Homo sapiens: one gene and its partners. The protein of the gene in region 2 purifies or fractionates together with the protein of the main gene of each other region. This does not show direct contact. Each region holds a gene or a part of one and is shown on either strand. Other genes may lie near its edges. The genes, in order: EPC2, JAZF1, ING3 and MBTD1.

Region 1 (7,813 bases), on a different chromosome or scaffold from region 2:
GTAGTCCCAACTACTTGAGAGGCTGAGGCAGGAGAATCACTTGAACCCGGGAGGCGAAGGTTGCAGTGAGCTGAGATCGCGCCACTGCACTCCAGCCTGGCGACAGAGCTAGACTCGGTAATAAATTAAAAAAAAAAAAAAAAAAAAAAAAAAAGTCTGCAAGGCGCGGCCAGGCGCAGTGGCTCACACCTGTAATCCCAGAAATTTGGGAGGCCGAGGCGGGTGATCACCTGAGGTCAGGAGTCTGAGACCAGCCTGGCCAATATGGTGAAACCCCGACTCTACTAAAAATACAAAAATTAGCTGGGCGAGGTAGTGGGCGCCTATAATCTCAGCTGCTCGGGAGGCTGAGGCAGGAAAATCACCTGAACCTGGTAGGCGGAGGTTGCAGTGAGCCGAGATCGCGCCATTGCAATCAAGCCTGGGCGACAAGAGCTAAACTCCATCTCAAAAAACAAATAAACAAAAAATTGCAACACGAGTTAAGCACTTTTATTTTTAATGAAGCATGAAAAAATTACTCTAAGTTATCTTACTAAATTAAAATACCAAAACATATGTGGCATACTAAGGACCACGTATGTTGGTGATTGCAAAAAGTAATATACCTTCCAGGAGTTAACTGTTCACTCTAGAACAGATTTCCTTTTTTTTGTTGTTGGGGGGGACGGAGTCTCGCTCTGTCCCCCAGGCTGGAGTGCAGTGGCACGATCTCTGCTCACTGCAACCTCTTTCTCCCGGGTTCAAGCAATTCTTCTGCCTCAGCCTCCCGAGTAGCTGGTATTACAGGCGCGCACCACCAGGCCCGGCTAATTTTTGTATTTTTAGTGGAGACGGAGTTTCACCATACTGGCCAGGCTGGTCTCGAACTCCTGACCTCATGATCCGCCCACCTCGGCCTTCCAAAGTGCTGGGATTACAGGCGTGACCCACCGTGCCCGGCCTAGAACAGATTTGACTCAAGTTCTAAAATAATAGGATCAAAGTAATTACACACAATACTGGTACTTTTAAGGCCATCTTTCTTTGGATCAAGACCCACAAAATAGCAAAAATATCCAAAGTTGTGCTTATTAGGGTTCAATGTAATTAACTATTGTATATAATATGATTTTATTTTAATTTTCCTTCCCATGGAAAACTGAGTCGTTAGAAACAAATTAAAAAAAAAAGTTCTCACATACAAAAAAAAAAGTTCTCACAGCTCTAAACCTTAGGGATAAATGCTGGGTTTTGATTATAAACATATTTATATATATGCACACACAAATATATATGTGTATGTGCGTGTATATATATCTATTACATATTTGTGTGTGTACACACACAGTTAAGTTCATCCCGATGCTACGGCCATATGCATTTTCTACTGAAAATGTAAGACTTTCAAGTAACTATACATCAAAGAGAAATGTGATTAAATAAGAGCAAAGTAGTATTAACAGGGTAACATAATGAGGTCAGAACTCAACCAGCCAATCGAAGGCATAAAAGCATTTCCTGCAATATTAATAGTCAAAAGAGAAAACCAATCACTGAAACCTCGAGCTTCCTTTTGACAGTCACTGAAGCAAGAGAACCAATCCACACACACCCGAGGTTGACAATAAGGCGGGACTGTAGGTTCATTGAAGAAATTCTTGAGGGTGCAGTTACTATGAACTTCGCACGCAAGTAACACCACTCGAGTCATAAACACTCTCTGTCAAGCCAGATGAAATCCAACCGTCTGCAAAATTTAACCCATCGGAGGAAAAGCAGCAATTTTCCCAAAAGGTGCTGTATTATCAAAATTACAACTGCCAATTTAGATGCACTAGGTCCTCAACTTCTAAGGACCACCTCGCAATGACAATTCTCGAGGACAACGCAACGCCGGCGGCTCGCTTCCGGGCATCCCCGGCTCCTCTCTAACGTTGCGCACGGAGCACGGCCGTCCAGGCGGAGCAGGCAGAGCCCGTCCGCCCCGCGCCCGGCTCGGGTCGGCAGAACTGGCCGGCGGGCGGCCCTCGGACGCTACGACCCGCTCGGTAGTCGTGGCCCCCGCCCTCCCCCGCCGCAGTGCTGCACCGCCTCATCCCGCTGCACCTTCGCGGGCGGGGGAGCCAGGATGATTACATTGCTGGGAGGAAGATGTTTGTTTTGAAAGCACCCTTCCACAGTCATTTCAAAGAGAACTCAATACAAAGCCAAAGTTAAAAGTGGAAAAAATAATAATCTTGCCTAGCCAAATAATACCACGCCATTAATTAGCCCCGCGCCTGAGAGAGGGAGGTGGAAAGGTAAACAGAGACCGTACGCCAAGAGCGGCCAGCGCATCCCCTGCGCCATTCCCGGCCGCCGCTTACGGCAAGGCCCCCTTACGGCAGCGTAAGCAGCGCTGCGAGCTAATCACAACACTGGGACGCAACAACATGGCGGCCGCGGGCGGGCGCTACGCCGGCCGAGAGGGTTTACGCTACTCCGCCGGCGTAGAGTCCCGTGCGTTAGAGCGGCAGCGGCGCCCTCCAGCGAGCGTAAAGCGCTCTGTGAATGGCGAGGCCCGACTGACAAAGGGGAGGGGGGAGGAGGGAAGGGGGGGTAATAAACACTCGAGTCCCTACCGATTCCTCCTCCTTCTCCATCCCGGTGGGCATCTGGGGCACGGCCCGGTTGATGGAGACGCAGTCGTTGAGATCAGGCATGTCCTTGCCGCGGTAGATAGGCAGCGGCTTGGCGGCGTCCAGCGCCCGCGCTCGGAAGGAGAGTTTACTCATTGTCTCCCCGCCTTACAGGAACAGCCCGGGCGGCGGCGGCGGGGCGGGCGGGGAGGGGGGGAGGACTCCCGCCGCCTCCTCCACCTCCTTCCTCAGTGCAGCGCGGCCGGCCCGCTCCTCCTCCTCCTCACTGCCCCCGGCCACAGCATGGGCGCCCACCCCGCCCGAAAACAGCCCCCCGCGCCCGCGGCCGCCTCCACACACTAGATCCGCCGCTCGCCCGCCCGATCCGCTCCCTGCGCCATGGCCAACATGGCGGACATTACCACAGCGGCGGCGAGCGATCCCGGCAGCCCGCGCGAGAGCGCGCCCCCGTCGCGGGAACGCGCCTCGCCCTCTCCCTCCCTCCCTCCTTCCTCTCCCTTCCCCTCCCTCGCCTGCCCACCCACTCTCTCCGCGGCGCTGCCGGCCCGCGGGAGCGTGCTCGGTCTCGGTCCGCTCCGGGGAGAGGGGGCGGGGGCGGCGCCCCTCCGCTCGCTGGCCGGTGCTTTCGCTGTGTGGCAGGTGCCAGGTGCGCAAGTTCGCCCGCGCCCGGGAGCGTGCGCCTCTCCCGCCGCCGCCCGGTCACCCCTCTCGCTGGGTGTCCCGGAGGAAGGCGCCGGGCAAAGACGGCTGCGCCGAGCAGCGCGTGTGTGCAGAAGTCCGGGAGCGGGAAGGGAAAATGTCGACCCGGACCCCACCAGCCATCACCCAAGCCTGTACTTGGACAGCGCTATCCCCAAGGCGCCCTGTGCGCAAGCTAATTCGCATCCTCCGAGGCGCACATCCCCGAGAGGTGCAAGAGGTCTCTCCCATCAGTCCCATCAGTCCGTTCGGAGGACTGGACCGCGCTGCTGGTGCCAGCCCTCTTCTACGCCCTCCCCTCCGTACCTGTCCGAAAGAGCTCTCCAAGGTGCAGCAGCGCGTTCATCCTCGCTTTGCAGTGAGGGTTCATGGTTTGAGGCTGCCAGATGCAACAAGTGAACTTAGGTTCCCTGTCACCCAAACTTCGGTACAGCTGTTTAGTGGATGGTAGGTATTTTTCTGAGTTCAAAAATAGTAGCTTTCCTAAAAGTTCAGCTTCTAAAAATTTAGCCAAGGCAGCACACATTTGCGAAGTAGCAGATGTGTGTCAAATGTGGGGTGCTGTGGAAGACTCGAAGAAATCTGAGAAAAGGTTCCTGCCTCAGAGAGCTTTCACCTTAATGGGATGCCAGGATGGCTGGAAAGATGAGTAACAGAGACGTAAATAGTTGAAGAAAATGACAGCTGGAAAGATAAGTGACAACCGAAAAAAAAGTGTAAATATTTTAAGAAAACAATACAAGAGATGACACAGGCAGTAAGTAGCACATGATTAATTACCAAACGAGATCTAGGCAATAATTGTGAGAGTTCAGAGAAAGGAAAGGAGGCATGACTGCAGCCTAAACTGGTTAGAGAAAGTTCTCAAGAGGAGGGAAAATCAAGGTGACTCAAATAAGTACTAGCTATTGTTGACATCAACCTGGTTTAGCCAAGAGGCTCTTGGTTAGTCTTTAAGCATTACACATTTCTCACAAAACCGTACAAAGAGAGTTTTTAACACATTTTACCATTTTCTAATAATCGATCATACTCTAACTCAGAGAAAGTCAGATGATTTCCTAAAGACCAACAGTGAAAAAATTGATTCCTACTGTCATTTCTATGTGACAATAAAACTATATCTCTTCCTCTATTACGTCCTTCTTCCCCTCCTCCACTTCCTCCCCTCCCCCTTTTTCCTCCTGTTCCTCTTCCCCTTTTCTCTCTGCAGTCTCCTCCTTTGAAGGCAGAATGGTGGATATAGTCTTCATGGTAGTGTCCAAATAGTCTAACCAGTCTGTCGCAGCAAAACTCCGAGTATTGTTTAGTGGGGCTTGAGTGTTTTTCATCCACTTTGTTGTTGGAAGCAATGGAGTTGCTGTGACTCATTTCTTGTAAGCAGTACCTTCCTCAAGCTTATGGGCATGTCCTGCTCTCTAAGTGCTACCCCTGGAACAGTTCCAATCCTCTGGAAGCAAGAACAAGAAGTTCTTGGGAGGGGGTCAGCACTGGGTTCAAGCCTGAAAGGGAAGAAAAAAGCAATAGTTGAAGAAATGAGTCATCCAGAGCTTTCATCTGGATGCCCAGCCCTCCTCAGGTTCAGAAAGGATAGCTTTCTTCTAGTCCCTATGTTTAGTTTTACTGTTTCTCTCAGAAAAGGAAATATCAAGTATGTGTAATATACCATCCATTGTAGTAACATGTTATATATATTATCTCAACTAGTTGAATTCCACTTAATTCTTATTATAATTTTATGAAAAAATATAATTTTACCAATAAGAAAACTGAGCATCAGATAATTTGCCAAATTTCAATTCCAACAACTTGCAGAACTGGGCTCAAATTCAGGTCTGACCTGACTCCAAAACTCTGGTTTTCTCAGTGGTGCTACCCTGCTATCCAAGCTCTTCAGCTTATTGACCAGTCAGCATTCTAAAGCTGCTAATTCAAAATTAGTTACTAAGACCTTCCAACCAACGGCCAAGGGAGCGCATAAGCCAGAGCCTAAAGTTGCAGTAGACCAAGGAGGGCAGGAACAACATCTGTCTGTCAATCACTGTATCCCCAGTTCCATGCCTCACATATGGCAGGCATCTAAAGTATATTTGTTGACTGATATTCCATGAAGAAATTCACTGATACTGACCCCATGCCACTCTAGTTTATAGTTCACATACCTCACTGGCCTGTCACCTGACCTAGCTATTGCTGCCAATATTTGTTCTTACTGTGGCCTACCCTGTTGTCCAGCTTTGTACCTTTGTGCATAGAGATTTTAGAACCAATTAATGTTATTCAAAAACACCTTTTTGAAACCTGGAATTTATAGGAAGGGATTTTTGCTGTTGTGGTTGTTTCTTTGTTGTTCTTTTACTTTGACCATGTAAAAGATTTCTTCCCCAAATCTCCATTTTCTTCTCACCCTGTAGGCAATGATTATAGAGCTGGGAATAAAACCATTTAAGGCAAATAACACAATATACTTTTCAACGGAGACACAGCCTGTGTTTTCTTGGCTTCCAATTCAGTGCCCAAACCGGAATGCCACTGTTCACTTTTGGAAAGTAACTTTTATTTGTATATAAATATTACTTTTCATAAAGTTTATTTCTGATTGATTTGTTGAATACTCATATAATTGTTAGTGCTAAAAGCAAAAAATATCTTCTTATAAAATAAAAAATTCTCTCATGAAATATTTTTATCAAGACCTGCCTCAAATGGGTGTGCAGCCTAATAGCCTATTTTAATTTCCACATACAATGCGCTAAGTATAGTCATTCTAAAATCAGTCCACTTCAGATATGCTCTAGACCAATTCCAAATGACATGCATTTAGCCCAGCAAGCATAATATATAAGCACCCAAGAATTAAAACCAGTTTAAAGCCATATCAAAATAAAATCACTGTCTAAATGTAGTCTAAATTAGAATAAATGTCAAATAACTGTTAGAATTAGGATTACATTCCAGTGTCCATCTCCCAGTACTATAATCAAGGCAGGCAGCTTCCAAATAATGGACAAATTACTTTTTGAAAGGAATCTTAAAACTAGTAAACACAGTTGCTATTCAACTATTTCAGAGTTTTGCAAATGTCACGTTCTTTCTAATTGGCTCCTGGTTTCAGCAAAACCATTTGAAAGTTAATTGGGTTAGTATGTGAACTGCATCTCCACCCCTCCCCCTTATGTTCCCAGGAATGAGCCTAGTACTAATAAAGCTTCGTTGTTTTCCATATGTAATCTGAATGTGGGGTCTGCATTCATTACAATCAACTGGAATCAGTTCTGTGGTTCCAGTGCCCTTTTCTGAGGCAGCTCTGCATCTTTGAGACATAGGGACAGAGACTACACTGAGAGGTGACCTGCCAAACATCTACTTCTACCTCTGCATTTGCCACCGTGGGAATAGCAGATGGTAAATAAAAATTTGTGACTGTGGCTCAGTTTCTTAGCAGCATCGCTCCTCTCAGACCTGGTTGGAATCACAGGGTGCCACCTTGTGTATAAGCTGACGATTTACTTCCCAGCTCCACAAAGGATCCAAATAGACTCCAAAATAATCAGCCTGAAAGCTCTGCATTTTGGTAACTAAAAAAAAAAGAAACAGATTTGAAAACACACAGCTCCAGAGGGTCCACAACACCCAATTTTGAATTGCACTGACAGCCTGTCTCATTTGTTGCCCCACCCGGACCGTAAAACACAACCAGTGCTCCACATTTGGAATAGATTGACGCTGCTCACTCAGGCTTTTGGATGGGGATAAGAGAAATAAGTAAAGCTCTTGTGATGAAGCTAACAAATCTGACTTGGACAGTTATGTGTGTCCAAACAGCAAGCAAGCTATGTAGATGTAATTTCAGGATTTTTTTTTTCTTTCTTTTTTTTTTTTTTTTTTTTGAGATGGAGTCTCTGTCACCCAGGCTGGAGTGCAGTGGTGCAATCTTGGCTCACTGCAACCTCTGCTTCCTGGGTTCAAGCAATTCTCCTGCCTCAGCCTCCTGAGTAGCTGAGATTACAGGCACATGCCACCACGCCTGGCTAATTTTTGTATTTTTAGTAGAGACAGGGTTTTGCCATGTTGGTCAGGCTGGTCTTGAACTCCTGACCTCATGATCTGCCTGCCTCAGCCTCCCAAAGTGCTGGGATTACAGGAGTGAGCCACCGTACCTGGCCTGGACTTTGGATTTTTGAGAGGCACTAGGTTCCATTGAGCTGATGAATATGAGCCTACTTGTTTTAATAAAATAAGTAAAATAATTATTTTTAAAAATAAGTACTTATTTTAATAAAATTGGATGATAGTGAGGTTTTAAAAATGACCGAGTTTGGAACAGAAATACAATTGTTGGAGCAAGGCCACGGGAGGTTAAAAAATAGGATCCTTTCCAATCCAGCTACCTTGCCCTTGAGAAATTCCACACTTGGAGGAAACCCACTCTAAATTCAGCACAGCTGTCATTCAGCTGAAGACACTATTACATTCATGGAACTAGCTGGATG
Region 2 (8,120 bases):
TAACGGTCTCCAAATACTTATAGATTGAATCAAAAACGATAAATACCACATAACAATACCTGTCTAGAACTTTGACTAAATGCTTTATATTTTCACCCATGTCTTTTCATCAGAAGTGTATTTATATGACACTATCTACTAATTGGGATATTTTTATTCTTCTTAAGATCAGTTCTTCTTTCTGCATATAGGGCTGCCTTTGATAGTAAAGGGCCTCTCCCCAGCAGAAGTGTATAATAGTTTGAGCCTCTTCATCCTGGGAATTGCAAGTGTTTGTTCATTTTAACATTTGCTTTTCATAAAGTTTGCTGGTTCAAACTGTTTTCAACTGTGTTAGCCCTGCAACACAGTTCACCTAGGTCACTGCTATTGCTGTAAACTTAATTTTTCCACATTTTCACTATTAAAAGGACAACACTAGCCTTCTGGGAATGAGGTAGCATTACTTCAAAGCTGAGTTTTAGAAAACGTATCAAACTCTTAACCTTCTTTAAAAATGTGTGCAAAATATTAAGACAATTTCTACACTTAAAAAAAAAACCTCATGATTCACCAAGTTTTAAACCATCTCAAACTAAATCCTCAAGAAGGATAACTGTCTTTAACACATTTTAATAAATATAATTTATACTGTCTTTTAACCAGCTTGTCTAAGTAGGTAGGCAATGGGGTAAAATTATTACTCAGCTTATATAAATTATAGTTTATTCTGAAATAACTGTTAGCGAGAATGGATGGGATATGCAATGACAGCCTTCTGTAAGTCAAGAGAAATTATTTATTTATATTACTTATATCATACATATTAATGTATAGCATTATCTATATTTATTTTTTACTTATTATTGGGAGTAAGGGGAAGAACTTGAACTAGTAACATTTCTACCAGAACTTCACAGTACCGGTGTTTTCGCTTTATTTTAAACTAGCCATCATGAAAAATCTGATTTAATACTTTCAAGCACTTTCAGTTATGACTATTCAATCATGATATGAATCAGCAAATTGGTTGCTCCATTAAACTGCTTTTAAGACTACCAAAACTTGCCCAGCTCTTCTGTCATACCTTTAGCAGAGGAAATGGAAGAAGCTATTACAAGGACGCCTGAAAACTTGAAAAGTTTCAAAACCTGGACAATTACTCAACAGCATTTTCCTCTGAAAGACATTTTGTAGACGTTTCCCATGATTATCTCCTATTCCGGATGGCCCATCAAATCACATTCTAAACAGGCATTCAACACTTATTAAGCAGCCACTGTGTGCAGAGACAGCACTATACTAAGCAAAGGAGCATAGGGTTCTGCCTCATTTTATTCCTGCATAAATACACAGCAGTCGTGATTTATTCTCTCAACTTTGTAGAAACGTGAGCTGCATCCACATGGCTGAATCCATGGCATTCATTTGGACTTCCTGGGGGCAATTTACAGGTTCTCTGGATTAGACAGCCCCATTGGGACATCGCTCGGACCCTTCACCTTCTAGCCCACGCAGGACAACTCGCTGGCGTCGGTCACACCTTCCGCAGGTGGTTGGACCGCCTAAGCCAGATGCACCCGGCCCACCTCCCTTAGCAGGGGTTCCGAATAGAAGTGTGAAAATGTGTGCAATGACTTCTGCAAATCAGAGGACTTGTTGAAAGGTCCAGGGGTCCAGGCGTGAAGGGAAAGCAGCCACCCTGCGGGGCGCCCCCTCCCCGGCGTCTCCCGGGCCCGGGGCGCTGCGCAGGCCGCCGCCGATCCCAGGGCGCAGCCAGCGCACCTCGGGCCTAGCACCATTAGAAAGGCAAATCGCAGAGCCGGGGTGCATTTAAATGCCCGGCCATGGGCCCTGGGGGTGTCTCTCCAGCGGGCGCCGCCGCAGGGGCCTCCAGGGCGCGTCGACCCCGGGGCGCTGGGCGCGGCCCGCGGGCGCACCCAAGACCTCAGCCCGCAGCGCCCGGGCGTCCGCGCCAGGCCGGGGCAGGGGAGGGCACCCAGAGCCCCCGGGCCCGCGTCCCCGGCCCCGCCCGGGCCCCTCGGCCGCCTCCCAGGGAGAGGGCAAGCTCCCCGGCCCCCGCCCGCGGCCGCCGGCCCCGGCCCCCTCCCGACGCACCACACCTAGCAACCGGCGCTGACAGGACGCAGTGGCGGCGGCGGCGGCGGGAGGAGGAAGCGGAATGGCTGCCGCGGTGGAGCCACCCCCGCCCCCCCGCTCCACCTCCCCGCGGCTGCAGCCGCCGCCGAGCCCTGACAGCTCGAGCCGGGGCGGAAGCGCCCGGCGGCGTGCAGCGCCCGCCCCCCGCTGCCCTCAGCGCCTCGGGCTACTCCGACCACCCGGGCCAACTAACTCCGCGACCCTGCCCAGCGCCCAGCTCCCGCCGCCCGCCGCGCCCTCCGCCCCGCGCCCCGCGCGCCGGCACTCGGCCCCGCCGCCGCAACCCCGCCGCCCCGCCGCGGCGCTCCCCGCTCCCACCACTTCGCAGCCCGCGTGCACGCCCCTGAGTCCCCCAGCCGCCCGCCCGCCCGCCCGCGGCACCTCGGGGCGCCCGCCCCCTCCCCCACCCGAGCCCGCTCCCCGCCCCCCGGCACCTCGCGCCCCCGCATCCCGCCACCCCCACCTCGGGGCTCGCACGCGCCCTCCCCGCCCTGCCGCCTCCCTCCCCGCCGGCCACCCCTGGCCATTCCGGGGCTCCCCGCCCGGGCAGGAGTTTCCGCGCGCCTGGCACCCCCGCCCACCCCCGGGCCATTTACCGATGTGGTTGTCCTCGATGTGCTCGATGAGGTCGGCCAGGGTGGGGAAGTGGAGTCCGCAGCCCCCGAATCGGCAGGTATTGGAGAAGAAGGAGGCGGCGGCGATGCCTGTCATGGTGCTACATCGAGAGCCCCCCTGGTGTCGGCTCTGCGAGCGCCGGGCGGGCGAGGGAGGGAGGGAGGCCGGGTGGGGTGAGGAGAGGAGGGGCTGGGGGAGGGGGAGAGAGGCGGGGTGAGGGGAGCGGCGAGGACGGGACGGAGGGAGAGGGGGCGAGAGAGATGGAAGGAGAGCGAGGAGCCACCGGGAGGCAGAGGGGAGGCGGCGGCTGCGGCGGCGGCGTCGGGAGCGGCGGGGGGAGGGCGGGGGCGGGGGCGGGGGGGGAAGGCCGCCGCAGCTGGGAGGAGGGACCAGGGCGCGCGGCTACAGCTGTGCGGCCCCAACCTCAGCGCGCGGACCCAGGCCTCACCTGCGAGCCCTGCCACCAACTTTATCTCGCTAGGCCTGCCCTTTACGGCTTGCCATCCGTGCCATCTGTTTGGAGCCTCCTTGGTTATGTATATGACGTTCTTAATACACCCACATCGATTAATTACACCTACCTCCCTGCGAGGAGAACTCAGGGAGTTACCCTGGTCCCTCTCAGGGACATTTTTTTGTACTCAGCCACCTGTCTAGGTGTGACACATTCACAGGGGACCCAGGAAAGGTAATTGTGTGCACCTTCTTCTTTAAACCTTCTTTAGAAAAAGTACACATTCTCCGGAGGTTTGTACTAACTAATTGATTTTAATGAAGCTTTCCCTCTAGGCCAGAAAAAAATCTTAGCTTTATTTAAATTTCAAAATAGAGTGCTTGGTTGTCAAGTGCATTTGCCTGTGTTTTACATATGTGCCACGTTTTTTATACTCCCTGCTCCTTCTAGGAAAACAAAAACTAAAATAATTTCATCACCCGAAATTACAGCACCCTACTGCACCCACTCCACCATCTCAGGTCTGGTAATTAACCCATCCTCGTTTCAGCCACTGCAGAAAGGACAGTGCATTGGTTAAGGCTAGAAGGAGCGGAAACAACGGCAAGGGACATAGTGACTCTTCATTTAAAAAGGAAGCGATTTCATCCTGTGAGCATTTAAAGCATAATGTTGACCAGGTAACCACTTAAGGTGAATTTAGTAGCTTCCCTGAAAACCAGCATTTTGCTGAGAATCAATTACTTTCTTGTCCCCACCCCCTCCTCCAGTTGCAGTCATATTTCTTCTGTAAAGTGTGTATTTTCCAGTAGCACTTTTCCAGGTGTCTAAGAAATATTACACATTATCAGCAGTTTATGACCCAACAGTACATTTTTTTTATTAATATTAATATATGCATACTGAATTTAGCATTTTTCCTTAGGGCAAATTTCACTTACCCTCTGGTGCAGATGCATGGAGAAATAGTATTCCTCCCTCCATAAACTCTATGCATCTCTGTCTAGTGTTATTTCTAATAATGGGATTGTTTGCTTTTCATGTAAGTGCTTAGAGTAAAGGCACATGTAATATGTCTGTTGCTACAGGAAGTTTTATGATCTGACCATCACCGGTGGCATTTTCTCTTCTCATCTCTTCTGTCTTGCAGCTCACAAGGTGACAAACTTGCTGAGATGAGATTCGGCTTGGGTGGGGCTGGGGCAGCTGTGTCTTGAAGTTCAGTTTGGTGCCAAGAATGGTTTCATGGGCCCAATGAGGGTGGGGGCAGGGCCCTGGTGGGCCTGATAATGAGCCAGGGACCGAGTTGGCAGGGGACTGAGGCCAAGGCCAGACAAGGGTCTAAAGAGCAGGAGTTAGAATTCTAGATCTTGAATTAGAATTTTGGCAGCTGTGCAGTACATTCAGCTGCCCAATCTGGGAAGGCCTTCAGCTGAGAGCAGGCAGAATATCTGGCAGGCACACACCACACCAAATGACATGGAAATGCAATACAAAACTTCAGCCAAAAATGATGCCAAAACAGCCACCCTTAGAGATGAATGTTAGGCACCCCCACTATGCAGCATCTGGGAGCCCCAAAAGCTTTGAAGAAGTAGCAGTTCTGTCCTCCAGAGGAAAAATTGTCTACGTGGAGTTATTAACTCCCAAGAGTGTGGAGAGGTGGTTCAGGCAAGAGAGTTCCGAGATGGGAAGTGCCAGAAATGTGCAGGTGAAAGATGAAGGAAGTAAGGGGCCTGGGTTTCACTAATGCATGGCTTTCTACTACCTCCTGTCAGTTTCACTATTCCTAAAATAAAACCTTGCTAGACCAAATTGAAAAAAATAGATTTTTTAAAAAATGAAGTGAGCTAAAATAACTTCCAAAGTAAATCAAGATATTGGTTTTTAAGACAAAATTATTTTCTCTACCTTGGATAATTATTACTGTTTTGTAAGGAATCAGTTCATTTTGCCTGAAAATAATCCACCCTACTACTTCTTCATATGTGACTGAAGCTTTGTTTATGTGATGTTCTGCTCATACTACTTTTTAAAAATCTGTACACTCTAGGCATTTCCGGTCTTTATATAAGATACATGATTGTGATCTCTTAGACCTGGAAGATACTCTGGCTGTCAGAACCACTGGTTTTGGAGATGTGGTAAACTGAGGCCGGGGCATCAAGCAAGTTCTCCCAGGTGCACACAGACAGTTTTTTTCTCTGTACTCATGGTGCATTTAGAAGGCATTGATAGACAATAGAAGGACAAATTATATATAGATAGTAACCACAGGCAAAGTTTTTTAAAAATTGCTAATAGCATGCTTACCTTTCTGTACTTATATTTTTAAAATGTTTGTTTCCAGGATATCCCTTTAGATAAAGTCAACATCTAAGCTACAAAAATATATAAAACAAACAATTCAACTTATTACATCCGAGAGAGAAGGTGATGACTGATATACCTCTGTACTGGCAAAAAACATCTGTCTGATTTGGAAAGTAAAAATATTTGAAAGGAGAGGGAAAGTGAGGGAACTGAGAAGTCAGAATGATATGACAGTGGCTGTAGACAAGAAGCATTCTCTGGGTTTAAGAGCCTTTTCTTGAAAACCATCTGTCTCTCCCCAGAGCCCAGTGCCTCCCAATGTATAGGCACAAAGTATGGATGTGCAGTGGCCCCATAATATGGTACTTAGCATTACAAATGGTTTGAGATCGCATAACAGTCTCCCCAAATCCAGCATGTCCAGTGCCCTCGAGATGGGGCAGCTGCCGGAAGGTGTGAATCCACTGGTCTAATGGAGCCAACTGAAGACACTGAGGATCCTGCTTCATACAGCTGTCTGTCCTCCACATACAGGAATTGGTTTATTTTGGCATACACTGATAATCAAAACCGTGCACTTCCTGTGTCCTGTGTGGACATCTGTTAATGATGCAAGAGGATCTATATGAACATTAGATTCTATCTTGAATCTAACTCTATACTGCCTTCAACTGTAGCTTTCTCTGGCTTTTTAGATTGTTTTCCAGGTCCCTCTTGAGGTGCTTTTCAGGTTTACTAGATATTTCTTCTATTGTCACCACTGTGTCGAAGGAGCAGATCATGAACCTTGGTCTTCTTCAGCTCATGCAAGTCTGTGGACGCTTACAATGTCTGATGTTCCCTGGCTCTTGAATGCTAAGGCTGCCACTTCCACCAACAGCAACCTTGGGCTCAAAGGGATGCCTTCTTTTTAGGCTCCATCTTCTTCTAAGGAGGATGATTTCTATTCCAGGTTTTATTGTTTAATATTTATGTAACCAAGTTTTCTGTATTTATTTTATTCCAGCTCAGAAATGAATCAGCTTTATCTGCTCTCTGGTGATTAATTCTCATTTTGTCCCTCAGTCTCATTTTGCCTAGGATTAAGAGCTAGCCTTAGAATGAGTAATGGGGGTATTCTTATTAGTTGCCACCAGTGACCTCATGAGTGTTAGCCCCTAGCTCTCCACCTGGCTGCTCCTGCCTACTGACTGTATACGTAGTTTTGGCATTTATTTCCAGTTCCTTGAAGGACTTTTCCAGAACTAAAGTAGTAAAACACCCACCCAATCACTGCAGTTCTAATTGAGCATCCTGGATCCATTCCACTACATTATGTGCCACACTACTACCCAGATGATAACTCCAAACCCAAATCTGATGGGAGCCACTGCTGCTCAGGCCACCCCAACCTGAGTTTTAGAATAATGTTAACAGAAGCAGCTAAGCAATTACTGTTTCATTTTTGCCTTTAACCTATCTTGATTGAACATCTATGCAAAGCTCCTGTTACACAACTCCAGAAGGCTCTATTTATATAGGCAACTGCATGAACAGTGACCCTGGGATCTGTGCAGCCTTGCAGTCCTGTTCCACTGCGCAAGATATGAGGGATACAATTTGAATAAGACAAGCCCAGTCTCTCCTCACGTGAGAGAGCACTAGGTGCTTTGCAAAGTCCTCCTCAATCTATTCTAAGGGCCTGCTAGGGGTGGCTTGGTTGGACTCCGTGTACTACCCTCTTGGCTGCTCTGGTATCTATTATTTCCCTTCTTTCCAGCTTTGGCTCACTCAGATGATAACTTCAGTTGCTGTTGACTGTAATGGAGCCACTAAGGCCACTAATGCTTGTAAAAGACTGCACAGCCTTTTTTGCCCAAAGATGTGTTTTTAGACGTCACTGATTCTCACCCAGCAATGCACAGTCTTGAGGATTTCTATAACTTCAAAGGCTACTAGCACGTTTTTTGTTCTAGCTTTTTGAGGTTTTACCAGCTCACACTATTGCAGTCCGTTTCCTCTGGACTCAGACAAGTATCACTGGAGATTGGACTAGAAGATCAAATTGGGAATACTCCATGATCTCATCTCCCCTGCTAGAATGTCTTAGTGGTAACTTTCACTACCAGAATAGGCTTCCTGCTTTTCAGTGACCAAAATTGATCCCAGCCTTACCTCCTACAGTTTCCCCACATGTACTGACAGTTCAAGATGTACCAAATCATTTTAGTTTTCTTTCTTCTTCTTCTTTTTTTTTTTTTTTTTTTTTTTTTAAGATAAGATCTCACTCTGTTGCCCAGGCTGGAGTACAGTGGCACGATCACGGCTCACTGCAGCCTCGACCTCCTGGAGTCAAGCGATCCTCCCATTTCAGCTTCCTGGGTAGCTGGGATTACAGGTGCACGCCACCATGCCCAGCTAATTTTTTGTATTTTTTTATAGAGATGGAGTTTTGCCATTTGCCCAGGCTGGACTCGCAGTCCTGGACTCAACCACCTTGGCCTCCCAAAGTGCTGGGATTACAGGTATGAGCCACCGCATGCTGTCATTTAGTTTTCAAAATGCGCTCACTTGTTCAACAAAAACCACCTTGCCTTTCTTTGCAAATATTGTGTAGCCT
Region 3 (7,153 bases), about 93 Mb from region 2:
TAGAACAAAACTATTTTAACAGGATAGATTTTTGTGTGTGTTAGTCAAATTTCACTAAAACGGCTACTAAAATAAACTGTCAGTTTCTTCTACCGGAACCCTAAAACAAATTTCTTCATTGATAATATGTTGATAATATGTAGTTTGGTTTATTCCTTAATAAATGAGGTGACCAGTGCAGTGATGGTCACAGGAAAAAAAATGTTTACTACTGGTTTAAAAGTAAATAAAATATTTCAATGAAAAAATACAACAAAATGCAACGCCATATAAAACACTGAGGGATAAAATCAAACATAATTGCATACTATGGTGATGTACCATAAATTCTGTAAAAGTAATACATGCTTATTTAAAATTCCTATAATATAATGTTTAAGCAAAGGCATACCTACACAAAATCTCTTTTAAGGTCTATATTCCACGCCTCTGTTTAAAGTCCTTCACTGGCTTCCCACCGCTTTAGACTAAGAATCACTCTCCTCCTAGACTGGCTCGCAAGGCCCCCATGCATTAGCTCCTGCCTGCTTCCTTTCATGCTGCTCCTTTCCCATTACAGACCACAGACCAACCACCCCGGCCTCTCTCTTGGTTCAACTTGCCAAGTCTTTTCCACTCCAAACTTTGCCCTTGGTATACCACGTGCCTGAAACATTCTTTCCTTAGCTTTTCCAACAGGTGGTTCTTTCTTATTTTCCAAGTACCACCTCAAACGTCATCTCCTTAGACTACATTCTTAACAGCCTTCGCCAGTTATTCAATTGTCTCTCCCTTTCTCCCCCTTCCTCTCTTTCTACAATGTTTATTTCCTCCTGTGTACTTATCGAAATCTAAAATAGTCTTTATTTAATAGTTTGCCAGGCCAGGTGTGGTGGCTCACGCCTGTAATCCCAGCACTTTGGGAGGCCGAGGCGGGCGGATCACGAGGTCAGGAGTTCGAGACCATCCTGGCTAACACGGTGAAACCCCGTCTCTACTAAAAATACAAAAAATTAGCCGGGCGTGGTGGTGGGCGCCTGTAATCCCAGCTACTCGGGAGGCTGAGGCAGGAGAATGGCATGAACCCAAGAGGCGGAGCTTGCAGTGAGCCGGGATAGCGCCACTGCAGTCCAGCTTGGGCGAAAGAGTGAGACTCCGTCTCAAAAAAAAAAAAAAAAAAAAAAAAAAAAAAAAATGTGAGGAAGTGACAAGGAGTATAGGGTGACTTTCAGTGCCCTAATCTGAATGACTACAAGGTCAGTGTGGTTCATGTGAGATTTAGAAACAAAAAGTTGGTGATGGGGCAGGGGAGGGTAGTTAGAGAAGAAAAAGGAGATGCTTTGAGTTTTAAATTTCAAAACACTGAGTTCTAGGGCCTGGGAATAGTCAGCTAAGATTAAAAGACTCAAAGAAACAGCTTGGGCTTCAGGAATAATTAACGTATAATTGTTAACACTAAGAGAACACATGGAATTGCAATAGAGGAGTGTCTCTCAACTTGGGTGGTGTGCAAAGGTTGGGGATAAAACTTGCATTTGAAAGAACAGGTCTTTACGCTGTGGAATTTGTTCTTCCTGGCCCTCTTGGCAGGTAGAAGAGGGGAAGACAATCACCTTCATGTGAGAACCACTTGAAGAGTAAGAAACCATGTAGGTCAAGGACAGAACCCTGAGGAACACCATCATTATGAGCTGTACCCAAGAAGGAGACTAAGAAAGGTCACAAAGGTGGGAGCATCTAGAGCAGGCAGTCACATGGTAATACAAGGTCAAGAATGGCAAGACAAAACGAATGGCAATAAGCATTAAATTTACCAATAGGGTCAGTTAAAAAGAATTGAAGCTGTCTGATGAATTTAGCAATAAAGAATTCATTAAATGAAGTTATAGAGGATTAGTAAATAGAACCCCAATTGCCATAAATTTAGGAATAAATTGAAGGTAAGGGAGTGTCAAAGAGTCTGAATGAGAAATTAAGGAAGACTACACTAGCTAAAGCAGAGTCACGGTCACGACACGATTTATATTAGATTGCCTGAGTTCTTTTTAAATATGAGGAAGACCTGAGCATGTTTAAATGCTGTGGTATAGAAGCCAATAGAAAGAAAAGAGGCTAAAGATGAAAAAGAGAAGGCATAAGTGATGAAGCAAAGATGCAGCAAGTAAAAACATGCCCTAAGGCAGCAACAATGTGGAAGGTACCTGTAAGAAAAGTGGTCAAGAGCTCAACCAGTCTCTTGATTGAATAGGAAAGGGCTGATAAAATAGGAGGAAGTGTAGACGCAAGAAGTATCAGAGGCAGGGCAATTCCAAGTGATGATCAGGTTCAGTCTGTGGCGACTGAAGTGGATTAGCATTTACAAAAGCCAAAGAAGTAGATGACTAGGTAGTATAAGATGATTGCAACAGAGAACTGTGAACCGGGTACCAGTTTTTCAATCTGAGCCTCACCTAGAAGCCATTAAATTATAGTGATAAGAGGCAGAGGGTAACTGAGATGATTATCACTAAGTCTGAAAGAGAAGGGATTTTTTATATTAAGGATATAATGTTCACCTGAAATAGGATTAAAGTATTTAAAAAGAAAGGCAGGGAAGGAGAAAGGGAAAAAGAAAAAAAATAATAAAAAGGAAGAGGGTAGAGCAAAGGTGGGGGCAGAAAAGAAAGGGTGGGGGAAGAAAAAGAAGAAAAGACAAAAAGAAGCCTCAGAGATACTAGGAGAGTGAGAGACAGCAGCTTCCACTTGGCAGAGTTGAAAGGGAAGCAGTGGCTTCAGGAAAATAGAAAATTCCAGTTCAGGAAATGAGATGGACTGAGTTCTTAAAGAAGGAGCAAATCCTACTATCTGCCAAACTAATAGCATTGTATGTATTCTAATGCAAACCCTTCAGTAAGGTATAAATTAATATTGCTTTTTTACAGCAGGAAACTGTGGTTCAAGATTAAATAACTTTTCCAAAGTCATGGTGTCAGTGAAATGGCTGAGCTAGGGTTTGAACTCACATCTGCATGGATCCATTATGGACACTTGCTTTCTGTTGTATTTCTTATGCTTTATTAAATTTACTACCTCGCCTTTATTACTTCACTCTTTAGCCTTGGAATCTATCCCTTCTCAATTAATTTCTGAATTTGTACTTTCCTTCTGTTTATGCCATTATCTCTGAGTGAAATGCTTTCCCCTCAATACAATACCTAATTCAGGACCTTGACTTTCTAAACAAACTCTGTTCAAAACTCTTCCTATACCCTCTAAGAAATCAGTAAGTAACTCTGCATGACTTACTTCAATGTTTTTCAGTAGACACCCCTTAATATTCAACTGGTTAATGTTTATTACATGTTTCTGTATGGATTCTCCACTTTAGTTTGCAGGTATGTCTGCCCCACAACAGTAGTTTACAGACACCTTGAGGACAAGAGCCATTTCTAGTATTACTTTTTTTTTTTTTTTTAAGACAGAGTCGCTCTCTGTCGCCCAGGCTGGAGTGCAGTGGCGCGATCTCTGCTCACTGCAAGCTCCGCCTCCCGGGTTCCCGCCATTCTCCTGTCTCGGCCTCCCGAGTAGCTGGAACTACAGGCACCCGCCACCAGGCCCGGCTAATATTTTTGTATTTTTAGTAGAGATGGGGTTTCACCATGTTAGCCAGGATGGTCGCGATCTCCTGATCTCGTGATCTACTCTCCTCGGCCTCCCAAAGTGCTGGGATTACAGGCGTGAGCCACTGCGCCCGGCCTAGTATTTACTTTTTATTCCTCCATTAGACCCAGGTACAGCTCCCTTTTTTCAGGCACAGAGTGGATGAACAGTGTGGTTTTTAAATAAGAGATGAATACACACACACACATATTTAAAAAGCATATATTTATGTTATATTTTTTCTAAATACACAAAATATCTTTAGTAAAGGTCTAACAAGCAATAAAACAACAAAATAATAAACAAAACAAAGAATAGAACCAAAGAGCTATATGAATTAAAAAGCAGGCAGTCTCTAAATAAGGACTGATACATACAGTCATTGAATATGAGGAAGAATGTTACTAAACAAATTAGTCTAGATTCAAATGTAAATGCCTTTTTCTAAGTTTATAGACATAATTAAAGACTGAAACAATTAAGACCTTTTTTTTTTTGGTTTTTATTCCACAGTAAATCAAGCTACAGCCTATTCTACCTATCTTTAGGCAGTGTCTTTTATGAAATTTTTTTCAGAATAACTCTATGAACAAAAGAGCCCAGGTTGTTAGCACCATTAAAATGTGTGTACTACATAAAAACAACTAGACATTTTCCATGGCTCTACATGACACATTTTCAAGTTTGTGGTATAAGCATTTACAATTCACACCATATGTGGTGTTCACCTTTTATCTTGTGTCCTGCTCACCAATGACATTTTACTTACACGTACTTGTTCAGTAATAAATCTGTACCCAGGAAAGACAACATAAGTATGAAATCTATACACTGAAGTTAGCCAAAAGTGAGCATGTGTTTTCTGCTTTAATTTACTTTAATGCAAAAACAGAAATGACTATTTCTTAAAGTGTATATTTTAGGAGAAGATGTTTCAAATGAAAAAGAGCACCACAATTGCATCAATATGAGAAATAGTGAATATTCTATCTATCTTCTTGGTGTTTTCAATCTTTTAGAAGTGCTGCTGCAAAAAAAGAATCTTGTTTAAAGTTTGTCATCTTGTATTGCTTAAACAACTGACACAGCTGTTACATACGATCTTTTAACATCACTCACATAAACACTGATTCAAATGATTCTTCTTCATTTTAATCAGACTACCAAGAACTCTTGTCAAAGCAGTCTTCTTAGGTGTATTTTACCACAGAAACAATCTCAAAATGATGTATAAGGCAAGTAAACACACTACCTTAAGAAGACAAGGATTAGTAAAATAAAGTTAAACATTAATTCTTGTTTAAAAAATATCTAACATCAGAAACCACCTTACCGCCGTATAGACTTGCTAAAATGTACAGTTCTCACCACATTAACTAACCACTCTGACTTTTCCACAAAGAAACCATAAAATGGACACTGAAATGTCAAATTAGATGTGATCAAGAGAGCAATACTTCAGTTTTAGTTGCTTCTTCCTACTACATTTAAGCCAATACAATTTAAGATATAATCTGTTATTCAAGTACTTATGGCACAGTATGCACATTACTTTTACTTACCAAGTCATATATCTGGTTTGCCAACTGAACCTTCTCATCTGCATCTTCCAAAGCTTTATAGTAGTCCTGAATGAAAACATTTTCATTTCAAAAATAAATTAATCATTTTAAAATATTCATATGCAGGACATACAACTGCATTTTCATTATCATATCTTGTTATCACAGTCATCCTACCTTAGTAATAAAAAACCTGTTAGAGGCCAGGGGCAGTGGCTCACGCCTGTAATCCCTTTTGGAGGCCAAGGAGGACGGATGACTTGAGGTCAGGAGTTTGGGACCAGCCTGGCCAACATGACAAAACCTCATCTCTACTAAAAATACAAAAATTAGCCGGGCATGGTAGTGGGCGCCTGTAATCCCAGCTACTCAGGAGGTTGAGGCACAAGAAGTGCTTGAACCGGGAGCCAGAGGTTGCAGTGAGCCGAGATTGGGCCACTGCACTCCAGCTTGGACAACAGAGCGAGACTCTGTCTCAAAAAAACAAAAAACAAAACAAAACAAAAACCTGTTAGAAATAGGGTGGGGATGGTATAGGATTAGAAACTATGCACAATGGCCAAGAGTAAAAGGGAGATGTTCAGAATTTCTAGAAAGGATATAATTAAAAGTAAATGCCATTGTAAGTCTAGAAAAAGCTATATGAGTTAATGAACAGTATTTAAAATAAAAAGTTAACTAAAATTGATCTAACTTGTAAAGTACATTTGCATTCCATTAAAAAATTTTTGTTAAAGTTCAGCTATTGAAAGGATTCTGATCTGCATTTCCCCATTTTCCAGTTGTTCTATAACTCCCACTTTAAATTAGGTATATATTCATACAACTCAATCTGTATTTTAGATTTTGCCTCAACTTATTAAATTTTTTTTTAAAAAAGAGGGGGAAAGAAGATGATACTATGAATTTCCATGGAGTACTAGACTTTTCAGGGTATACTTAAGGTGCACTCCACAGGTTAAAGAAATGATTAGTGACTCTGGGATGTGGATATAACATGTCTTTACTCACAAACACATGTCCCTCCAGGTATCTTCCAAGCTAGGACCACTTCTGTTATAGATTATGATTTTTTTTTTTCCTAAGAGAAACAATCTTCCCTCCATGTGGTAGAATAAATAACATATCATAACAGAACTACTCAATTTGTAGTTTCCAAATTTCTTCCTTAGTGGACCCTTTTTTTTTTTTGAGACGGAGTCTCACTCTGTCACTCTGTTGCCCAGGCTGTAGTGCAGTGGCGCGATCTAGGCTCACTGCAACCTCCACCTCCTGGGTTCAAGTGATTCTCCTGTCTCAGTCTCTCGAGTAGCTGGGATCACAGGCGCCCACCACCACGCCCAGCTAATTTTTGTATTTTTAGTAGAGACGAGGTTTCACCAGGTTGGCCAGGCTGGTCTCGAACTCCTGACCTCAGGTGATCCACCCGCCTCAGCCTCTCAAAGTGCTAGGATTATGGGTGTGAGCCACCACGCCAGGCCTCTTAGTTGATCCTTGAACAATTCTATGAACATTGGGTTTAGGAAGGCATTATTATTCAGAAATATTAAGATTTAATGTCACACAGCTAAATAGCAGAATCATGACCAAACTCAAGTCTTTTAAGTTGTTTTTCCAATGTATCCATCCCTAAATGAACTCAATCATACTTTCAAAGCAAACTTTGAGATGTACGTGTATACTCATTCAATTCTGGAAGACAGCTATAGCCACTATAAAACTAACAAAACCTCAAAGAATTCTATGTTTCCAGACCAATTCGTGTGCAAATTTAGAGTTTAAACTAGAAGGCTTTCTTAAATTCCTTCTAACTTTTAAGATTTCGTTCTTCTGTGGGTCCACTAATTTAAGTACCTAGCAATATATAAAATATTCTTCAAGGTCTGCTCATGTTTATTTACCTAGTTTGTGGCCAAAACTGGAATACAGTACTCTATCTCAACTAGAATAAAACAAACTAATAGAAAAAAAAG
Region 4 (7,950 bases), on a different chromosome or scaffold from region 2:
AAGAAGAGAAATCCTAAATTTGCAGGTAAAAAAATCCTTAAGCCAAGGTTTATTAAAAAATAATGATTAAATCTATGTGCAATTTTTGCCTGAAATCAAAAGTCATCTTGCACAGTTAAGAATACTGTGGTGTTAGGAGAAATATCTTAGCTTGTTTTAACTATTGTAAGTCCTTTCTCTTTTATTGTCCTGATGTTTTTATTCTTTCTTGAATTTTGAAACCCTCAGACTAATGATACATAAGTGTGAAAGGTTATATCTTATTTAGCAAACATTTTAAAGATGAAAAGCTGAGAAACAAAGAGCAACCCAAAGAATGTCACTTGTCTAATTTTAGAATGTGGTTACTCAGACTACTGAGCACTCTTGGCTTTTAGTAATTCAGTGGTTTAGTATTTATCCTAATATGTTGTTTTCACTTTTAAACTATAGCTTATATTTTCCTTTGATCACTATGTTACATTTGAAAACAATTTAAAATGTTGTTTTAATTTTCAACATTATTGAGGGACCAAAAGCAGCACTAGAACATCTAGAAAGGTTTAGATAATAAGGTCAACATATAACCAGCTTTAAAGAATATGGCAGCGTCTTAAAAATAAAACCAGTTGTTCCTGTCTAGTATGTTTAGAATGCAGATGTCTCCAAAGTCAGTCAACTTAAGTCATGACAGTTCATGTTTAAAGTAAGCAGGAAAAAAACTTGGAACTCCTTATTAATTAAAATGTTAAAAACACTATTATTACACCTCTACTGATTCTTTTTCACAAGCTGAATTCTAATGAGTAGATTTAGAGGAAATATTTTATGTCAAACATTACATAAAGTTAGAAACTGGATGGTTAAAAAGCATGACGCAACAACGTAAGGCACTATGAATAAATACTTATTCAAGACAGATGTTGCCATAATTTGCAAGGTACTCACAAGCAATCAGTATGGGGTTTTAGATAGATAGAAGCTACTTGTTATTCAGAGAAGGAGGTGGTGCAAAAAAAAAAAAAAAGTACAGCTATTTTCTTTCTAAACACTCTGGTGTTGAGGTAAACAAATGAAAAATAAAATAACAGTCTAAGTCCACAAGAGCAAAGCAACAGTCTCTAAGTTATAAGAGGAGGAGAGAAAAATTGAGTCTAACCTTTTAAATAGGAGACTGGGGCTTAAGGTGAAATTTATTTGCTGGCTTTTAAATCACATGCATTATTTCTACATTATACCTGTTATGTCTTGACACCCACTTCACCACATTAGAGAGTAATAGGTATATCCAAGATTCTTAGGCCAATAAAACTACTTTTAGAGGCAGCATAGCTCACCAAATGAAGGAGAATGTTAGAAAAACACCCAGTGACAATAGTTTCAACTATCTCAACCACCCAGTGATAAGTACTGGTGCATGCTAATATAAGGAGAATTAAAAATATTGTAAACTCTAAACAAGTATTAAAATGGTTCGTAAATTTCAAATCTCATAAAAGATAGTTACTTAAAAAAAAAAAAGAAGGAGTAAAAGCATTTGGAAGAGAGGCCCTTGGAGGAAAGACTAGCTTCCGAGGAACACAGGTCAAATACGGGTGTGGGCGGTAATCATCTAATCATCCCTCTACCAGGTGATGCTTCTAACCACTTCAGTTTTAGACATCCTTAGAAGTGATTTAGGTAATAAACAAATGTGTTTTGTGATACAAGAACCACGGAGATGACGCTGAAATTTCTAACTTCAAAAAGATGCACTCCTAAGAGAAAACAGGCACGAAATTCCCATATTGTAATTCTTTAGCTTCCTGTAGAAAAACATCTTCAGGCATGTAAGCCAGCACACTTGACACTGACCCAGCAAAGTTTTCGGCTAGCCCTCACTATCTCTCAACCCCCCTTCCTCCACTTCCCTGCTGTTCTTTCTTGGCACACAAAATATAGGCCAATGAGCAGTGGGTGGGTGAGGAGGATGTGAGAGAAAATTTGAGAAGTAAAAAAAGGAGCAACTTAACCAGGACATGAATGAGACTGAAGGGTCTAATAAGGGTAGGCAGACAACAATTAGAACTACTGAAATATGGGCTTTCCTGGGCAGTAGTGAGCTCTCAGTGCTTTTAGGGGTGTAAGCAGGGTTCAGACTACCTACCACTTGTCAGAGAGGCTGCAGAGGGGACGGCTGCTTTGGATGACCTCTAATGTCTCTTCCGACTCTGAAATGTTAGGATTCTTATTTCACAAAGGAGAACGCAATGGTCACAGAAGTCCACCGACTTGAAACCCTTTTAAATATGCAGCCTTGGAGGCTGCTTCCCAAACACCACTCCCACCTCTCCCGCACGTGCCCACCCCGCCCCCTTTCAATATTTCCACCTCCACGTGCAAACCGCCTCGCGGCACTGCCCCCAAGGCAGATAGACACCTTCCCCTGCAAAGCAACGAAACTGTGCTCCCCCTCCCCGCCAAGAAGAGAGGACTACTCCACTCTCCCACCCTGGGTGGCTAAAAAAGGAAAAGTCTCGGATCCAGCCTTTCCCCCCTAGCCAGAGCAGGGGGCGGGGGCAGGACGCAGAGAAAAACTTTCTTCTCGAATTTTTCTTCCAAAGGGTGGAGGAGATGGAGAGAACCCCAACGAGTCCAAGGCTGACGGGGTGGGGGGAGGGGAACCCCTGAATCGTTTAACGGCTGGAAGGGGGAGGGGGGCTCCGGAGGTTGAGAGGGCGTGGGATGGAGAAGCAGGCCAGGGAGCGGGGTCAGGGAGCTGCGGGGTTCCTGGGGTCGGAGAGCTGCAGGCGTCCCCCCCACCTGGCACACAAAGCGGCTGCCGCGCTCGGCTCTCACCAGATCCTTTGTGTTTTCCATCAGGGCCTCATGGGTAGGGGTTGTCCGTGCTCCCCGAGCCCGCGGCGCCCCCTCCCCGGGCTGGGGGCAGGTGCCTCTCCCCGGGACTGCGGCGACTACAGGGGGCCCCCGGCTGGGCCCAGACCGGTGGCGGGTGCAGCAGCCCCCGGATTTCCCCCCTTTAACTCGGGTGGCCCCAGGATATCAACAACATTAGCATAGCCCTCCCTCCCCAGCGCGCCTGCGCCGTGACCCGCGCCCCGATTGGCCCACTTCCCTACATACCCTCCTCTCTCGCTTCCACCGTGGGACCCTCTGCAGGCTCCGTACTCCAAGGACCGTACCAAGACGAAGGGTGGAAAGCGTATTGGGGCTTGTGTCAAGTCAAGTGGTTACAGCCAAGAGGAAAAGCAGAAGTTCCATTCAGCCGTCCCAGTGTATAGTCGGGGTTTCTTGCGCTCCTTTCAATATGTTGCAGCTGCGAAATTGTGTTGGAAAAATTTTCCACTCCAGTCACGCCGCTTCCCCCTACACCCGGAAGATTGGCCCTCCCGGAGGAACTCCCACACGGGGCGGGGCTGGGTAGGGGAGCGGGAGTTACGTAGAGGGAGGGAGTGCTGGTCACGTGGCAAGAGGCTGCGCAGGCTCCTTCCGGCCCCCGGGGCTTCGGCGGCGGCGGCCCGCGAGGGGCCTGGGCGCATGCGCAGCGAGGTTCCACGTGAGCGCCTGCGTTTCTCCTCAAACCTAACGATGCCGCCGGAGCGGAGGAGACGAATGAAACTGGACCGGAGAACCGGAGCGAAGCCGAAGCGGAAGCCCGGAATGAGGCCGGACTGGAAAGCCGGAGCGGGGCCAGGCGGGCCTCCCCAAAAGCCTGCCCCTTCATCCCAGCGGAAACCGCCGGCCCGGCCGAGCGCGGCGGCCGCTGCGATTGCAGTCGCGGCGGCGGAGGAAGAGAGACGGCTCCGGCAGCGGAACCGCCTGAGGCTGGAGGAGGACAAACCGGCCGTGGAGCGGTGCTTGGAGGAGCTGGTCTTCGGCGACGTCGAGAACGACGAGGACGCGTTGCTGCGGCGTCTGCGAGGCCCGAGGGTGAGGGAGGCCGCGGCGCGCGGGCTGGGCGCACTCGGGCGGGGCGCGCGGTGGGCGGTGAAGCTCCGGGGGGCGGAGCCTGGGCGACCTGCGGCGGCGGGGAGCGCTCAGGTGGGAGGGAGCCCGAGAACGCGGGCGCGGAGGGTCGCAGCTGCGGGTCCCTCGCCTCCCTGCTCCAGACTGAAAGTGCCTGGAGGGCGGGGACCGCGTCTTTCTCCGCCCCTGGAGGCGCCGCTGCTCGGGTATCTGCTTTGCGAACTGTGGTCGTGAGCATCTTTCGCTGCTGCTCGACTCCGCTAGCCTCTTCCCAAACTGAGGGTGGTCTTTTGATCACCTGCCTCAGTTCCTTGTGATTCAGGAATTCGATTTCGTTGATGGAATCAATTCGTGGGCACGGGCCTGGGCATCTCCGTTGTAACTATGTCCCCATGTGACTATGAGACCCACCATGTTTTGAGAATGATCGTGTATTCCGTTCATTTAGCAAATATTGGTGAACCTGTTAGTTGCCAGATACCCTTTCTGGCAATGGCAAACCCTGCGTGATTGATCATACTTTTTGCACACATTTTGCTATCCCTTTAAATTCTATACCAGGCTTTTCTTGAGAGAGTCCCGGACATTGTTCTAGGCACTGGAGGAGACACAGCAATGGACAAAACTGACAAAAATCCCTGCCTTTTGGCGCTTGTGTGCTAGTGGCAGAGACAAGATAGAGGAGATAAACGAGTAAACTTCAGGTTTGTTGGTGACAAGTGCTGAAGAGAAAAAAGGACATTCGGGAAAGGGAGATGGGCGTGTGTAGAGGCCTGTGAAATTTTAGATAAAGGGGGCAGAGGAAAGCTCACCGAGAATTACCCAGGCCATGTTTATTACACAAATGCTGACCTAGTTAATGTCAGCTGCTTACCAGAGCCGCCTTCGGGTGCTTGTAGGAGAAGTGGCAGCAATCTTTTTGGGAAGTACAGAACTATTACTGGAAACATGCTGAACTGTGCGACGGTTTTGTCGTCTGGAAAAGGAACAGTGTACGGAGGTGGGAGCTGTTGGGTTTGAAGGCTATTAGACTAGTAGTAGAGCAAGTAGAAACCACTTGGACATTTCTATCATTGGTTTTGGGAAGCTCAAACTCACTTCAAGGGATATTCTGTGGTCTAGGTTTAGATTTTTTTTTTTTTTTAGACTCGCCCTGTCGCCCAGGCTGGAGTGCAGTGGCGCCATCTCGGCTCACTGCAACCTCCACTTCCTGGGTTCAAGCGATTCTCCTGCCTCAGCCTCTGGAGTAGCTGGCATTACAGGCGTGCGCCACCACGCCTGGCTAATTTTTTTTTGTATCTTTAGTAGAAACGGGGTTTCACCATCTTCGCCAGGCTGGTCTCAAACTCCTGACCTCGTGATCCGCCCGCCTCGGCCTCCCAAAGTGCTGAGACTACAAGTGTGAGCCACCGCACCCGGCCTAGGTTTAGATTTGATAGTATAAACTTTATGGTATAAATTTATAACTTTAGAATTTAGATTTAATGGTATATTTATTTTTTACTTATTTAGAGATACGGTCTAACTTTGTCACCCAGACTGGAGTGTAGCGGCACCTATTAGTCTTCCATCTCCCTTTTGCTAATAGTAACTGGTTGCTCTTCTTGTTGGTCACAGATAAATTACACCTGCACAATTCTCCGAACACTTTAAACTCAGAAGTCAGCTTCATCCTCCTAGGCTCAAGTGATCCTCCTGCCTCTGCCTCCCAAGTAGTTAGCTGGGGCCACAGGTGCACACCACACACCCAGCTAAATTTAAAAATTTTCTGTAGAGACGAGATCTCCCTATGTTGCCCAGGCTGGACTCGAACTCCTGGGCCCAAGCAGTCCTCCCACCTTGACCTCCCAAAGTGTTGGGATTACAGGCATGAGGCATTGCGCTCTCTGCTGGTATAAAGTTTCTTAAGGAGGTAGGGGGTCAAAAACAGATTGGGAAAATGGAGATATCTTTGACTCTAGTTTGCCTCCGGTCCTGTAATTTCTGTAGTTCTGACATTTCTCCTCCTTTTTTCATCTGCAGACTCATCTTTTGTTCTTGTCTTACTTGGTGTTTTCCTTCCTGCGTGTTGAGTGTTGACTTTTTCTCCTTGACTGTTCCATCTTGCCTCACCTGTCCAGTCGGTGCCATTCTCTGATTTCTCCATTTTCTGCCTCTGCTTCCAGCATTTGCAATGGTAGCATTCCATCCCATTATTTCATCAGAGAGTGGTAGAAAAAACATTCTATGAGCCATTTGGCTGTAAGGCCTATGTGTCTGCAGTCATGGGATAGGAAAATCTCAGTGCTTGAGGGTGTTTTGTCTGCTGTAGGTTCAAGAACATGAAGACTCGGGTGACTCAGAAGTGGAGAATGAAGCAAAAGGTAATTTTCCACCTCAAAAGAAGCCAGTTTGGGTGGATGAAGAAGATGAAGATGAGGAAATGTAAGTTGCCTAACTTTTCTTCTGAATCCCTCTGTACACTTAAAAAAGTTATTTTGCAGATTTTAAAATCATTCTTTTTACCAATTTGTGATTATGTGAAGATTTGAAAAATATTTGAAAGTATAGAAAAGATCTTTCATGGTTCCTGATCCCACCACCGAGGGAGAACTGCTGTTAGCATGTTGTCACACTTCTGTCTCAGTCTCCTCTTTGCTGTATACAGTAGCTAAGAGAATACAGTGTTTGAAGTCAGATCTCGATTTGCCTCCTCTTTTGGCCAGTTTCTAATTGACCATGGGCAGTTTGGAACCTACATTTTTTCCTTTGTGAAATGGGCACAATGATAGTAACTACATCAGAATTTTGTTGGGATTAAACAAAATAGTACTTGTAGAACTTTTAGCACAGTGCCTGAAACTGAGTAAAGGCTAAAAAGAAGGTAGCTCACACCATAGGAACTGTCATGGATGAGAATGTACTGTATGCTTGATTTAACATTTTGACTTTTTCTACATAAAGTTACTTTGTAAACATTTCTCCCTACTTAAAAAAAATAGACATTTTAAAATGGCTATGTTGGAGTCAATTATGTGAATTAACCATAATTTACGTGGCTATTGTTGGGTAGATTTTCTTTTTCCCTTTTTTTTTTTTTAATTATTTTTTTTGAAACAGAGTCTTGCTGTTTCACCTAGGCTGGAGTGCAGTGGTGCGATCTTGGTTCACTGCAACCTCTGCCTCCTGGGTTCAAGCGATTCTCCTGCCTCAGCCTCCCGAGTAGCTGTGACTACAGGCGTGTGCCACCACACCTGGCTAATTTTTGTATTTTTAGTAGAGACAGAGTTAGACGGAGTTTTGCTACGTTGGCCAGGCTGGTCTTGAACTCCTGACCTCAAGTATACACCCGTCTCTGCCTCCCAAAGTGCTGAGATTACAGGCGTGAACTGCTGTGCCCAGCCTTATTTTTCCCTTTAATGCAGATTATTTCAGCATTAATGTTTATCACCTCTTTATGTATAAACCTTTCTTTATTTTCTAATTTATTGCCTTAAGAAAGATTCTTTGAGGTAGAATTACTTAATCAAAGAGCACAGTTATTTTTAAGGTTCTTGATAAGTACTGCCAGACTGCATGCTATGGGGCTCTACCAGTTTGCCTTCCCATTGAAAGGTGTCAGTTTCAGTCCATTCTTAGACACAATGGTTTATTTGTTTTTTTTTTCCAGACTCTGTCAGTTTGGTAGTGGGTAATATCTCTACCTAGTTTGTTTTGAGGAAGTGTTTTTGTGTTTAGTCATTGTCTTCTTTTTTTTTTTTTTGAGACTCTCATCCTTTCATCCAGGCTGGAGTTCAGTGGCGCGATCTTGGCTCACTGCAACCTCCGCCTCCCAGGTTCAAGCGATTCTCCTGCTTCAGCCTCCCAAGTAGCTGGGACTACAGGCACATGTCACCATGCCCAGCTAATTTTTGTATTTTTAGTAGAGACGGGGTTTTACCATGTTGGCCAGGCTGGTCTCGAACTGTTGACCTCAAGTGACCTGTTTGCCTCGGCCTCCTAAAGTGCTGGGGTTACAGACATGAG

What was found.
Region 1: the proteins of JAZF1 (region 2) and EPC2 purify together in Homo sapiens (affinity purification with mass spectrometry; 2 studies listed by BioGRID and IntAct, with this or other methods). This does not show direct contact.
Region 3: the proteins of JAZF1 (region 2) and ING3 purify together in Homo sapiens (co-immunoprecipitation; 2 studies listed by BioGRID and IntAct, with this or other methods). This does not show direct contact.
Region 4: the proteins of JAZF1 (region 2) and MBTD1 purify together in Homo sapiens (affinity purification with mass spectrometry; 2 studies listed by BioGRID and IntAct, with this or other methods). This does not show direct contact.

What each region holds. Positions count from the first base shown.
Region 1 is NC_000002.12:148,639,961-148,647,773, reverse strand, and holds the start of EPC2 (enhancer of polycomb homolog 2), read right to left. Parts: upstream 3,024-7,813; 5' UTR 2,757-3,023; coding exon 2,604-2,756; intron 1-2,603. UniProt on the Homo sapiens protein: May play a role in transcription or DNA repair.
Region 2 is NC_000007.14:28,177,728-28,185,847, forward strand, and holds the start of JAZF1 (juxtaposed with another zinc finger protein 1), read right to left. Parts: upstream 3,069-8,120; 5' UTR 2,851-3,068; coding exon 2,736-2,850; exon of another isoform or gene 2,730-2,735; intron 2,164-2,729; exon of another isoform or gene 2,103-2,163; intron 1-2,102. UniProt on the Homo sapiens protein: Acts as a transcriptional corepressor of orphan nuclear receptor NR2C2. Inhibits expression of the gluconeogenesis enzyme PCK2 through inhibition of NR2C2 activity.
Region 3 is NC_000007.14:120,953,652-120,960,804, reverse strand, and holds part of ING3 (inhibitor of growth protein 3), read right to left. Parts: intron 5,247-7,153; coding exon 5,181-5,246; intron 4,646-5,180; coding exon of another isoform or gene 4,634-4,645; exon of another isoform or gene 3,825-4,633; intron 1-3,824. UniProt on the Homo sapiens protein: Component of the NuA4 histone acetyltransferase (HAT) complex which is involved in transcriptional activation of select genes principally by acetylation of nucleosomal histones H4 and H2A.
Region 4 is NC_000017.11:51,257,018-51,264,967, forward strand, and holds the start of MBTD1 (MBT domain-containing protein 1), read right to left. Parts: upstream 3,033-7,950; 5' UTR 2,839-3,032; coding exon of another isoform or gene 2,818-2,838; exon of another isoform or gene 2,782-2,817; intron 2,190-2,781; 5' UTR 2,126-2,189; intron 1-2,125. Other genes in the region: UTP18 (U3 small nucleolar RNA-associated protein 18 homolog), read left to right, coding at 3,568-3,909, 6,257-6,369. UniProt on the Homo sapiens protein: Chromatin reader component of the NuA4 histone acetyltransferase complex, a multiprotein complex involved in transcriptional activation of select genes principally by acetylation of nucleosomal histones H4 and H2A.